Linked DNA regions of Homo sapiens: region 2 is linked to region 1. Evidence: fine-mapped expression QTL. Tissue or cell type: whole blood. Region 1 holds a variant in brackets; the other region holds the start of a gene. All regions are shown on one strand. Distances are from middle to middle.

Region 1 (2,627 bases):
CTCTTCAATGGAGCGTGTGTCCCTCTTATTGGCCACGGGCACTAGGGGCAGAGAGGAGGGTAGGGCGGGCCTAGAAATCCGTACCTCAGCCTCCACTGCCCTCCTGCCGCATCCTATGCTCCTCTCCCAGCCACCCCCAGCCGCACTGTGGCCTCACCACAGCCGTAGGTCTTATTGGCCTGTAGCATGTGGGCTGCGTCTTTGGCTGCTCCCTTGCCGATGAGGTGGCTGTACTTGTCCTTGTAGTCGCTGGCAGGGCTCACCACCACAGGCCCCTGCTGGGCTGCCTCCTCCTCTTGCCTCTGGGCCAGCTCCTAGGGGTGAAAGTGGGGGCACTGGTGCTCAGGGCCCCAGCCCAAACCCCCACCCCTCCCAGGTGGTGGGCTTCTGGACCCCAAGGGCTGCAAAGCATAGCTCACCTTCAGCTTCCGCTTCTCCTCAGCCTTCTGGGGGTCCCATTCCTCTCCACGACGGTAAGAGTCTAGCTCTTCATCTGAGGGTGCAAACTCCTGAAGAAGAGCAGAATGATGGGGTCAGAGTCCATACAAATGTTTCATTTCATTCCTTGGTCGGGGAGGGGGGATAAGGCTACAAAGGGGAGAGGAGAGAATGAGGAATTCAGGCCCTTTACCTTTTTGAAGATCATGACATAGCGACAGTCATCATCTTCCCCAAAGGAGAAGGATGTCAGGCCAGCCACTTCCACCACATCATGTCTGGGATGGGATGGCAGAGGGGAAAGAGCATCTTGAGCCAGGAGCGGGCCTAGTGCCCTCCTCTGGAGGAGCCCCCCGCTGGCCCTTTCATGCCCCGCTAGCCACCCATTTCCTTCCTCCCCCAGCCCAGGGACACTCACAGTATGCTCCTCTCGATCTTGTTCATTGGCTGAAACTTTTTCTTGATCTGCCCACTGTCTTGAATGAAATCTGACACCTCCTTCTCCATCTTGGGAGAGGGGAAAGGAAGCAGATATGAGACAATGGCTCCACCCAAGTACCCCTCTCCCTAGCTGAGCCTGGGCCCTTCTACGCCTCCCCAGCACCCTCCCCAGCCTCCAAGCCACTGGCTTCCATGCGTCACCTCTCTCAAGACATTTTCAGCAAAACTGAGTCCTCAACCTTCCAATTTTAACTTATTGGAAGTCCTTCCTGAGTCTGCCTTTGATCACTCCAGTTGTTCTCACCCTTTTACGAAACTCCACTTTCTGTTGTTTCTCTTGCTCTTGTAGTTTCTTCAGGCGGGCGGCCTGTTCTGGGGGTGAGAAATGGCAACATGAAGCCAGGGCTGGAAGCATGGGTGGGAAAGGTTTCTAAGGCTTCAAGTGAAGTGTGGTGTCCACTGGGAGGTGTCAGGCTGGGAAGGTAGGATTAGCGTTTATTCATCAAGCATTTATTGATGTTTATTCTATCTAATAGTCCCCCTTATCCACAGGGGTTCATTCCAAGAC[C/T]CTCAGTGGATGCCTGAAATTGTGGATAGTACTGACCCCTATACATACTATGTCTTTTTCTATACATACATGCCTATGATAAAGTTTAATTTATAAATTAGGCACAGTAAGAGATTAAGAATAATAGACCAGGCATGGTGGCTCACGCCTATATCCCAGCACTTTGGGAGGCCGAGGCAGACAGATCTCCTGGGGTCAGGAGTTCGAGACCAGCCTGGTCAACATGGTGAAACCCCATCTCTACTAAAAATACAAAAATTAGCCGGGTGTGGTGGTGGGCGCCTATAATTCCAGCTACTGGGGAGGCTGAGGCAGGAGAATCGCTTGAACCTGGGAGGCAGAGATTGCAGTGAGCTGAGATCGCGCCATTGCACTCCAGCCTGGGCAACAAGAGTGAACTCCGTCTCAAAAAAAAAAAAGAGATGGCCGGGTGCAGTGGCTCACACCTGTAATCCCAGCACTTTGGGAGGCCAAGGTGGATGGATCATGAGGTCAGAAGATCGAGACCATCCTGACTAACACGGTGAAACCCTGTCTCTACTAAAAAAAAAAAAATATACAAAAAATTAGCTGGGTGTGGTGGTGGGCGCCTGTAGTCCCCACTACTCGGGAGGCTGAGGCAGGAGAATGGCGTGAACCTGGGAGGCGGAGCTTGCAGTGAGCAGAGATGGCGCCACTGCACTCCAGCCTGGGCGACACAGCAAGACTCCATCTCAAAAAAAAAAAAAAAAAAAAGAGATTAAGAATAACAATAATACAATAGAACAATTATAACAATGTACTGAAATAAAAGTTTGTGGCTATGCTCTCTCTCTCTCTCAAAATATCTTACTGTATATAACAGTTCTGGACTGCAGGTAACTAAAACCTTGGAAAGCAAAACCTTGGATAAGGGAGAAGTAGGGACTACTGTATCTGGCACCAGGCGAGACCCTGAAGTACTGAGATTATTAAGACACAATGTGGCCCTTCAAGAGCTCCCAGTTTAGTGGGAGTGACAAAGATCAGAATAATGCTTAACCCCCTTTCCCAACTCCACTGGGGAAACCAATTAACAAATATCTATTTATTTATTTATTTTTGAGATGGAGTTTCACTCTGTCACCCAGGCTGGAGTGCAGTGGCATGAGCTCAGCTCACTGCAAACTCCGTCTCCCAGGTTCAAGCGATTCTCCTGCCT
Region 2 (2,500 bases), 27 kb after region 1:
AAGACTGGCAGGGCTTGGGCCTCAGAGGCCCTAAACCTTGAGCTTTTGCACAGACTGGGGCTATGGTTGGGTCAGGTCCTGGGGGTTGGGACTCAGGCCATCCGGTCCTTGGAGGATGGTTTGGCAAGAGAGCCTGGATCCTGGGGGCAGGGCAGGAGATTCTACCTCCGGTAGAAGCTAGGCCTTTAGAAGACACGCCCTGAGTTCCTTCTCTGTTTGATTTTTCCAAGGGGAAGGGCAGATCTGATAACTGAACCTAACCTATTCTCTCCTCCAGGTTGGTTAGGACCTGATAGAATCTGGGCCAGACACCCAGATTCCCACCCTCAGGACAACCCACCCTCCGGCTGACAGCCCTCTCTACGTAGCTCCCTCTCCCCAAACGCCTCTGCCTCCCCTGGCCTCCAGGCCTAGCCTACCCCATCTACCGCTCTGGCTCCAGCCTGAGCCCCCCGCCCTCCTCGGGGAACAGATGGGAGCTGGCGGAGGCTCTCAGCACGGGCTCCGCCAGGTGTCCAGGATGGAGATGGGAGGAGGCCCGTCGGGCTCGGCTATGTGCAGTGAAGCTGGGGTTGGGGTAAGGACTCCGCCCCAGGGCGCAGGTGCGCAGTCCTGGCTAGGCAGCCTGCCAGGGTGCGGAGCGGGAGCGGGTCCTTGGGCTGCACTTGGGCGGCGCCGGATCGGACGCTTGGCACTCTGGGCGGCCCCCCGGCGGAGTGGTGGTCCCAGGAGAACCTCCGAGGTGGGAGGGTCCCGCCCGCATAGAGGGATGTTCTGGAGAAGCCGGGAGCAGAGTCCGCGGGCACGCGGTGGGCGAGGGACAGTGCAGGTGCCGGGTGCGGGGGTCTCCGGGACAGTCCCCGGCACGCGCTGGTCCGCCGTGGGGCCCTGCGGTGAGCGGCGCCCCCTGGCGCGGGGGAGGAGGACGGAAGCGGGAGGTGAGGGCGAACCGGGAAGAGGGACGGTGGTCCCTGGCGCGGCGCTCCGCGTCGGGACCTGGAGGAGCTGCGCCCTCTGGCGCGGGGGCGGAGAGGCGGGCGAGAGGCCCTGGCTCTTACCTCCCGGGGTCCCGCGGGTGACGGCGGCAGCGGCCATTCTACCCCACACCGACCCCCCCCAGCGCCGGCTGACAGCGGCGTCTAACGTCACTGCGCACGGGGCGGGGCCTCCCAATTAAGGGGATGAGGGTCAGGAAGGGAACCTGGGGTCAGCACACGTGGAGTTCTGGGTGGGGCGCTGGGCAGAGGGACTCGGCTTCTAGGGCTCTGAGCCAGGCCGAGGGACAGACTGCTGGGAAGTCCCCAAAAGGGCAGCAGCACTGAGGGGCAGGATTCCAGGGTCCTGGAGGCGGAAGCTCGGCCGACTGACTCCCAGTTCGAGAGAACGGGGCGGGGGCAGCCCACCAGTGCTGGAACCCGAGGGGCCGGGCGAGGAACGCTGGACTGGGAGCAGGACCCTTCTCGCCTCGGACAAGACTCCTTGTCTGGGGACCCAGCCCGACTTCATTGTAGCTGGGTCCTCGAGAAAGCGAAAGGAGCCCTCCTTCCCCATTGGCCTCTCCATCGCTGCATCCCAAGAAGAAAGACAACTCGGGCTCCACTTGCTTGCTTTTTAATAACAGAGCAGAGAGAATACAAGGCCAGGAGCGGGGCCTGGAGGAAAACAGGACTTGGGGTGCTCCTGTGAGAGCGGTGGGTTGAGATGGGAGCCCACGGGGGCTGTTAATGCCTAGTTCAGAGGATGGGAAAGGCAGTTGGAGAGACGAAGGAAGGGGAAACGCCTTCATGTCAGCAATGAGGGTGACTCTAGTGACGGAACTAGTCTTGGGTCCCTGGGGCACCACTAGCCTCTCGGCATCGGTGGTTTCTCCTTACTCTTCAGACGCTGCCAACTCCATCCCCCAGGGATTGTGAAGGGGGTTCCTTCTGGCTGTGACAGTGCTGAACGAGGCCAGAGAGTGCAGCTGCCTGGAGGCACAAGCCTCCTCCTGATCCAGGGGGCTCCAGGGAGACCAAAGCAGCTGTCAAGATGAGAGAAATTGAAAAAGAAAATGGAAAAGTAGGTCTTCTTTCCAGATTTCCTAGTACCCAAGCTTAGGTACCTCGAAGTCTCTGGTTCTCACCTACGTTATTTTTGTTTCTCTCAAATCCAGCTCTCCAGCCTGGCTCTCAGCTTCTGCATCTCCATGCAAGACCAGAGACCCACATCACTCCCTCACTCCACCCAGTTCCACTCCAACAATACCTGGGCCCTGCCAGGAGTGAGAAAACGGTCCTCTTCCTGTGGATAGGTTGCTCTCTCCTCTTCCAGATCAGGGTATTCATTGGTGCTGGGGAATCCACAGCCCTCTTCGCCAAGCACCACTGGCTCAGATGCAGCCCCAGAGCTGCCCCACTGGGCCTTCTTCAGTCTGTGGAGACTTTAGGCTGAGGAGAGAAGTGCCTGGAGGCCAGGCTTCCTGTCTCTCCATTCTTCACCTTTCTGTTCTGAAATACTTCCT

What was found. PIP is the estimated chance that this variant, and not a neighbour inherited with it, causes the effect.
Region 2: CAMTA2 starts here. The variant in region 1 is fine-mapped to the expression of CAMTA2 in whole blood (TOPMed, PIP above 0.99).

The regions. Positions count from the first base shown.
Region 1 is chr17:4,959,603-4,962,229 of GRCh38, forward strand. SPAG7 (sperm associated antigen 7) reads right to left here. Exons shown (of 7, transcript NM_004890.3): 2 at 1,184-1,251; 3 at 857-945; 4 at 632-716; 5 at 420-509; 6 at 158-314; 7 at 1-41. Among named protein-coding and RNA genes, the nearest start is that of SPAG7, 6.9 kb to the right of the region's middle. The variant C/T (reference allele first, on the strand shown) is at 1,448.
Region 2 is chr17:4,986,535-4,989,034 of GRCh38, forward strand. It overlaps CAMTA2 (calmodulin binding transcription activator 2), which reads right to left and starts at 1,141. Exons shown (of 23, transcript NM_015099.4): 1 at 1,059-1,141. INCA1 (inhibitor of CDK, cyclin A1 interacting protein 1) reads right to left here. Exons shown (of 7, transcript NM_001394789.1): 6 at 2,245-2,410; 7 at 1,596-2,020. The coding sequence ends at 1,871. It overlaps CAMTA2-AS1 (CAMTA2 antisense RNA 1), which reads left to right and starts at 1,210. Exons shown (of 3, transcript NR_187235.1): 1 at 1,210-1,691; 2 at 1,882-2,058; 3 at 2,153-2,500. RefSeq lists a silencer at 621-1,160.